Homo sapiens: one gene and its partner. The protein of the gene in region 1 purifies or fractionates together with the protein of each later gene. This does not show direct contact. Each region holds a gene or a part of one and is shown on either strand. Other genes may lie near its edges.

Region 1 (3,817 bases):
GTGCCATATTTATGCAGCAGTTGATGTTCCTGTCTGTGGAATGTGCACAGTGAGGGAGGCCGTGCTGACGCATGCACTTTAGCATCCATCAGGCCCCCATGGACTGCCAGCACAAGTGCATCTCTAGACTCTGAGAAGGACACACTTGTGGCTGTGAACTAGGGTGCTCCGTGTTCTTGAACCTGGCTTCTGACTTCTGTCACCTTATGCCGCCATCCCTTCCCTCTGTGCTGCAACTGGGCTGGTTTCCTCTGTGTTCCTGCAGTGCCTGTGCTCCTCTTCCCAGGATTTCACATCTGCTGTCTGGAATAGTCTCCTTCTCTCTCTCCACCCACTCCTTCCCCCACCTAATTGCTTCCTCCTTACCCTTCTGAGCTCAGCCCAAATACTACTTCCAGGAAGTAGGTAGGCCCTGGCCACTGTCCCTCCCCAGGCCGGGCCCGTGTGGTATGTGCTTTCAGAGTGTCCTGCTCCTCCCTGTACCACTGAGCACCGTGGTAGTGAATGAACTAATGACTTGTGGAACCACTGCTGAATATCTGTCTCCCCTGTTAGAAGGAAAGTAGCTCAAGGGCAGGGACTGAGCTTCTCCAGTGCAGTCCTGTTTGCTGAGCACCTAAAAAGTGTCTTGCACATAGAGCTCTATAAGTGGGCTTGACACAGTAAATGAACAAGGTGCTGCCTCCTGGCCCCTCTAGGACTCTAACAAGCCTACTTGAGTTCACCTGCTGGCTCTCCCATGTTTGCTCATGCAGTCGACTTTGCCTCAGCTTGACTTCCCCTGATGGCTCTTATCCTTTCAGGGTTCTACGGTTGCCAGAGAAGCGAGCGACAAGGAGAAGGTATGCTGGTGCTGAGCAGGAATGGAAGGGTCGCTTGGAGTCAGAAACAACTCCTGTCGGCCATCCTGTCCCTCGCCCACCCCAGCCCCTAGCCCAGCTCCCAGACATGCCGTCTGTCAACATGAAATGCCGTGTGTCATGAATCACCTGTCTGTCCTTGTGCTAGGCCTAGACCTTGGTCTCTGGTCTTTTACCTCTGCCCTCACTACGTTCTTCATAGTCCTGCTGGGATGGCAGACATTTCTATCTCATAGTCCAGCCTGAGTCAGTCAGTGGCTGCCTGAGCCCTGAGCTGGTCCAGGCTCAACAGGAAAGAATCCTTTAGTCATTCCTCATCTTTCATGTGTTTGCCCTCCCTGCCCACCCAAAGCCTGGGACTAGAGGCTCCTGCACTGCTGATTTAGCAGGTTGAGGGTCGGTACACTGACAACCCCTCCTTCCCCTTTCTGTATAGTTGCTCCCGGCAGAACAGTTGGGTGTCCCTGGGGTGAATTAATCAGGCTTACCCAGCCTAACTGCTGTTGCTCTCCTAGGCCAAGGACTTGCCAACATTCAAAGACAATGACTTCCTCAATGAAGGGCAGAAGCTGCATGTGGGAGAGGAGAGTAAAAAGAACTTCCTGGAGAAACTGAAGCGGGACGTTGAGGTACTTACTAACCTTCATTTTCACCTGCAAGGCTCCTTCTGTACCTAGAGTAGGCGCCTCTTAAACCTTAAGAAGAATGGAATTCAGTACTTTCCAGGAGTATGGACAAAAGGGTGGTGATTTGAGCAGCGTGGGCACTTATGGGCACCTAAAGCAAGTGCAAATGATCATTCCACCTGACGGAGCATAGTTGGCGCCAGTAGGACCTTTGTAATTTAGTTTAGAATGCTTTTCCCTTTTCACTAATTCATTCCAACACCTTTTTCAAACTCCCTTCTGCTGTTGTCCCTACAATGGAGAGGGCATCTGGCCATCAGAGCTGTAGGAACCCAGCTATTAAGGTCCTGTAACCCCAACATTTTGGGAGGCTGAGGTGGGAGGATCGCTTGAGCTCAGCAGTTCAATACCAGCCTAGGCAACATAGCAAGACCTCATCTCTACTAAAAATTAAAAAATTTAGCCAGGCGTAGGGGCACACACCTGTAGTCCCAGCTACTTGGGAGGCTGAGGCGAAAGGATTGTTTGAGCCCGGGAGATGAGGCTGCAGTGAGCTGTGGTCTCACCACTACACTCCAGCCTGGGCAACAGAGCAAGACATTGTCTCAAAACAAAAACCGAAAAAGTTGGCTAAGCATGGTGGCTTACTCTTGTAATCCCAGCACCTTGGAAGGGTGAGGCAGGAGGATCACTGGAGCCTGGCAGATCAAGGCAACATGAGCTGTGATCATGCCACTGTGCTCCAGCCTGGGTGACAGAGCAAGACCCTGTCTCAAAAAACAAAAATCCACTAATCAGGTTCTTCTCTGGCTCTGGCTCTGATTCTCCACTTACCTAGCAAACTTCTGTTTGTAATCTGGGGAGGACAGGTGCTAAATAGTGAAAATGTTATCTGGACCACTTGATAACTCAGCGTCTCCTTCTCTTTTAATAAATTGAGAGGCTGCTCGTTAAAACCAAATCCTACAAACAAACTTGGGAAAAAAAATTTTTTTTAATTGTGGTAAAATACATATAATAATAGGTGTTTTTTTTGTTTGTTTGTTTGTTTTGTTTTTTTTTAGGAGATTCTCGTTCTGTCCCCAGGCTGGAGTGCAGTGCAGTGGCACGATCTCGGCTCACTGCAACCTCCGCCTCCTGGGTTCAAGTGATTCTCCTACCTCAGCCTCCCAAGTAGCTGGGACTATAGGCACGCACCTTAACCATTTTGATATATAGTTGAGTGGCATTAAGTATATTCACATTGTTATGCAACCAGCACTACCATTCATCTCTGAACTTTTATCTTTCCCAGCTGAAACTCTATACCCATTAAATACTAATTCCCAATTCCCCCTCCCTAACCCCTGGCAATCAGTGTTCAATTTTCTGCCCCTATGAAGTTGACTACTCTAGGAACTTCACATAAGAGGAAGCAAACAGCCAAGCGAGGTGGCTCATGCCTGTAATCCCAGCACTTTGGGAGGCTGAGGTGGGCGGATCTTCTGAGGTCAGGAGTTTGAGACCAGCCTGACCAACATGGAGAAACCCAGTCTCTACTGAAAATACAAAATTAGCCGGGCATGGTGGTGCACGCCTGTAATCCCAGCTACTTGGGAGGCTGAGGCAAGAGAATCGCTTGAACCCAGGAGGCGGAGGTTGCGGTGACCCTCCAGCTTGGGCAACATGTTATGAATGAAACTCCATCTCAAAAAATAAAAAAAAAAAAAGGAAGCAAACAGCAGTTGTCCTTTTGTGACTCTGTTATTTTGCTTAGCATAATGTCTTCAGGGTTCATCCATACTGTATCATGTGTCAGAATTTTTTTCTTTTTATTATTTATTTATTTGTTTTGAGACAGAGTCTCGCTCTGTTGCCAGGCTGGAGTGCAGTGGTGCGATCTCGGCTCACTGCAACCTCCGCCTCCCGGGTTCAAGCGATTCTCCTGCTTCAGCCTCCCAAGTAGCTGGGACTACAGGCGCGTGCTGCCACGCCCAGCTAATTTTTGTATTTTTTTAGTGGAGACGGGGTTTCACCATGTTGACCAGGATGGTTTCGATCTCCTGACCTCGTGATCTGCCTGCCTCGGCCTCCCAGAGTGCTGGGATTACAGGCGTGAGCCACCACACCTGGCCAGAATTTCTTTCTTTTTAAAGCTGAATAAGGCTGAGCATGGTGGCTAACACCTGTAATCCCAGCAGCTCAGGAGGCTGAGGCAGAAGGACTGCTTGAGGCCAGAAGTTGGAGACCTGGGCAATTTACTGAGATCCTGTCTCTACAAAAAATTAAAAACTAGCTGGGTGTGGTGACATGTGCCTGTAGTCCTAGCTATTCAGGAGGCTGGGTGGGAGG
Region 2 (3,817 bases), on another chromosome or scaffold:
ATGCTGCTGCCACTGCTGCTGGTCCAGGGACCATAGTGTGGGAATCACTAGTTTTTGCCATATAAAAGTTTAAAATTTGGCCAGGTGTGATGGCTCATGCCTGAAATCCCAGCAGTTTGGGAGGCAGAGGCAGGCAGATCACTTGAGCTCAGGAGTTCGAGACCAGCCTGGGCAACATGGCAAAACCCCTGTCCCTACAAAAAATACAAAAATTAGCCAGGTGAGGTGGTGCGTGCCTGTAATCCCAGTAACTCAGGAGGCTGAGGTGGGAGAATTGCTTGAGCCCGGAGATTGAGGTTTCAGTGAGCTGTGATCGCGCCACTGTACTTCATCCTGTGCAACAGAGCAAGACCATGTCTCAAAAAAAAAAAAAAAAAGTTTAAAATTTCTATATAGTTAAATTTGTCTTTTTCTTTTATAAATAACTTTTGAGGCCAGGCACGGTGGCTCACGCCTATAATCCCAGCACTTTGGGAGGCCGAGGAGGGCGGATCACAAGGTCAGGAGATCGAGACCATCCAGACTAACACAGTGAAACGCCGTCTCTACTAAAAATACAAAAAATTAGCCGGGCATGGTGGTGGGCACCTGTAGTCCCAGCTGCTGGGGAGGCTGAGGCAGGAGAATGGCGTGAACCTGAGAGGTGAAGCTTGCAGTAAGCCGAGATCGCGCCACTGCACTCCAGCCTCGGCGACAGAGTGAGACTCTGTCTCAAAAAATAAATAAATAAATAACTTTTGAACTTCTTGTCTTTTTTTTTTTTTTTTTTGTGACCGAGTTTCGCTCTTGTTGCCCAGGCTGGAGTACAATGGACCAATCTCAGCTCACTGCAACCTCTGCCTCCTGGGTTCAAGTGATTCTCCTGCCTCAGCCTCCCAAGTAGCTGGGATTACAGGCATATGCCACCATGCCTGGGTAATTTTGTATGTTTAGTAGAGATGGGGTTTCTCTGTGTTGGTCAGGCTGGTCTCAAACTCCCAACCTCAGGTGATCCACCCACCTCGGCCTCCCAAAGTGTTGGGATTACAGGCGTGAGCCACTGCGCCCGGCTAAATTTCTTGTCTTAATTTAAAAAAGTATTCTCTGTCTCTATACTGTGTATCTGGTCTCTAAGATTTTATGTTTTACATTTACATTTAAATGTGTAATCATCAGGAATTTATCTTTGTGTATGGCATAAGATAGGAGTCTGTTTTCTTTCAGAGTGTTAACCAGTTGGCCTAGCGCCAAATTATTAAATAATCTCACTTTTTGGATTATTTAATCCAATATTGGATTATTTCAAATCCAATTTTAATTGAAATGTCCTTGCAACCCATTATATACTTCTGTGTCTATGGATTTGCCTATTCTGGATATAATAGGCAAAGCTCAGAAAATTGTATGATTGTGTGATTACACAAAAGTAAAATCATACAATATGATTTTTTTGCGTCTGGCTTCTTTCACTTAGTATGTTTTCAAGATGTATCCATGTTGTAGCATTTATCAGTACTTCATTCTTTTTATAGCTGAATAATATTCCATTATATGGCTATACCACATTTTGTTTATCCAGTTATCAATTGGTCATCATTTAAGTTGTTTCCTTTTGATCATTATGAATAATACTGCTATAAACATTGATATACAAGTTTTTGTGTGGACATATGTTTTCATTTCACTTGGATATATACCTAGGAGTGGAATTGCTGGGCTACATAGTAACTCTATATTTAACTTTTTGAGGAACTGCCAAAGCATTTTCCAGAGTAGCTGCACCATTTTACATTCCCACCAGTGGCAGTGTAAAACACTTGTTATTCTATCCTTTTAATTGTAGTCATGCTGGCCTTGCACTGTGGCTCATACCTGTAATCCCAGCACTGTGGGAGGCTGAGGTGGGCGGATCACTTGAGCTGAGGAGTTCAAGACTAGCCTGGGCAACATGGCGAAACCCCGTCTCTACAAAAAATACAAAAAGTAGCCAGGTGTGGGCCGGGCACGGTGGCTCACGCCTGTAATCCCAGCACTTTGGGAGGCTGAGGCGGGCATATCACGAGGTCAGGAGATTGAGACCATCCTGGCTAACACGGTGAAACCCTGTCTCTACTGAAAATACAAAAGCAAAATTAGCCGGGCATGGTGGCGGGCACCTGTAGTCCCAGCTACTCAGGAGGCTGAGGTGGGAGAATGGTGTGAACCCGGGAGGCGGAGCTTGCAGTGAGCTGAGATCCTGCCACTGCACTCCAGCTTGGGTGACAGAGCAAGATCCTGTCTCAAAAAAAAAAAGTAGCCAGGTGTGGTGGTGCACACCTGTAGTCCCGCTACTGCACTCCAGCCTGGGCAACAGAGCAAGACTCTGTCTCAAAAAATAGAAATAATAATTGTAGCCATCCTAATAGGTATGAAGTGGTATCCCATTGTGGTTTTGATTTGCATTTGAACCTCTTTCATGTACTCATTGGCTATTTGTATATCTTCTTAGAGAGATATCTTTCCAAACCCTTTTTTTTTTTTACTAATTTTTTTAGTGACAGGGTCTCACTCTGTCGCCCAGGCTGGAGTGCAGTGTCAGAATCATAGCTCACTATAATTTTGAACTCCTTTTTGCCCTTTTTTAAACTGGATTATTTATTGAGTTTTAAGAATTGCTAATATTTTAAAAACAGTTTTTCTTAATGTTTCTATTTTGAGTGGGGCATTCAAACTTTTCTGAGCTTTGTTGAACATTATTAGATCTGTGGGCTGAATAATAGTTTCCAGGCAATTAACATTTTTGTTTTTGCTTGTTTTAGAGAGTGACTCAGACATCTCCTCTACAAGTACCTAACCCATCCTGGATGCACCACCATTCATACCTCATGCAGCCTTCAGTGAGTATTCAGAAGTGGGCAGAAGCCAAAGAGGCAATTTGATGTAAAGAAAAAACTGGCTGGGCACTGTGGCTCACGCCTGTAATCCCAGCACTTTGGGAGGCCAAGGCAGGCAAATCACCTGAGGTCAGGAGTTCGAGACCAGCCTGGCCAACATGACAAAACCCTGTCTCTACTAAAAATGCCAAAAATTAGCCAGGTGTAGTGGCGGGTGCCTGTAATCCCAGCTACTCAGGAGGCTGATACAGGAGAATTGCTTAAATTCGGGAGGCAGAGGTTGCAGTGAGCTGAGATCGTGCCATTGCACTCCAGTCTGGGCAATAAGAGTGAAACTCCGTCTCAAAAAAAAAAAAAAGGCCTTTGATGCCAGGAGATGTGGGTGTGAGTTCTGGCTCAGACCCTTGTGCAACCCAGCAGTAAGACCTAAGCTTGTTATTCTTAGACGAGGGTCCTTCCACACTGACAGGCAGAGTTCCTATTCTTGTTGCATAGTTGGGTTGCTGCTCACTTACCATTTCCCAGGATTCTTAAATGTCTGTCTCCAGTGGTCCTGACAGCCACCGATCACTGCTTTAGGCAGCCTCACAGGATGCTGCAGCTAACCCTGTCCTTTGTTGCTGCCTCTAGGGTTCAGTTCTGACACCAGGGATGGACCATCCCATTTCTCTCCAGCCTGCCTCCATGATGGGACCCCTTACCCAGCAACTGGGCCATCTCTCCCTCAGCAGCACAGGCACGGTAAAGCAGGATATTTCTGATTGTAAACTCTCCTACTGAGCAAGGCATACCTGTGTAATACTCTTCAGCGTAAGTAACTTATGAATAATGATGGAATTACTTCAGTGTCATCCGGGGCACACTCAGAACAGGACATAAACTACAATGGTAGTGCTCCATGAGCCAGGAATACAGCCATTCTGCTCCCCAGCCCACCCCTTTTAACTGATTCCTACTCATGCACC

The links.
Region 2: the proteins of PIP4K2B (region 1) and RBMS2 purify together in Homo sapiens (co-immunoprecipitation; one large-scale study listed by IntAct). This does not show direct contact.

The regions. Positions count from the first base shown.
Region 1 is NC_000017.11:38,775,359-38,779,175, reverse strand, and holds part of PIP4K2B (phosphatidylinositol 5-phosphate 4-kinase type-2 beta), read left to right. Parts: intron 1-803; coding exon 804-842; intron 843-1,375; coding exon 1,376-1,489; intron 1,490-3,817. UniProt on the Homo sapiens protein: Participates in the biosynthesis of phosphatidylinositol 4,5-bisphosphate. Preferentially utilizes GTP, rather than ATP, for PI(5)P phosphorylation and its activity reflects changes in direct proportion to the physiological GTP concentration.
Region 2 is NC_000012.12:56,584,072-56,587,888, forward strand, and holds part of RBMS2 (RNA-binding motif, single-stranded-interacting protein 2), read left to right. Parts: intron 1-2,777; coding exon 2,778-2,855; intron 2,856-3,482; coding exon 3,483-3,593; intron 3,594-3,817.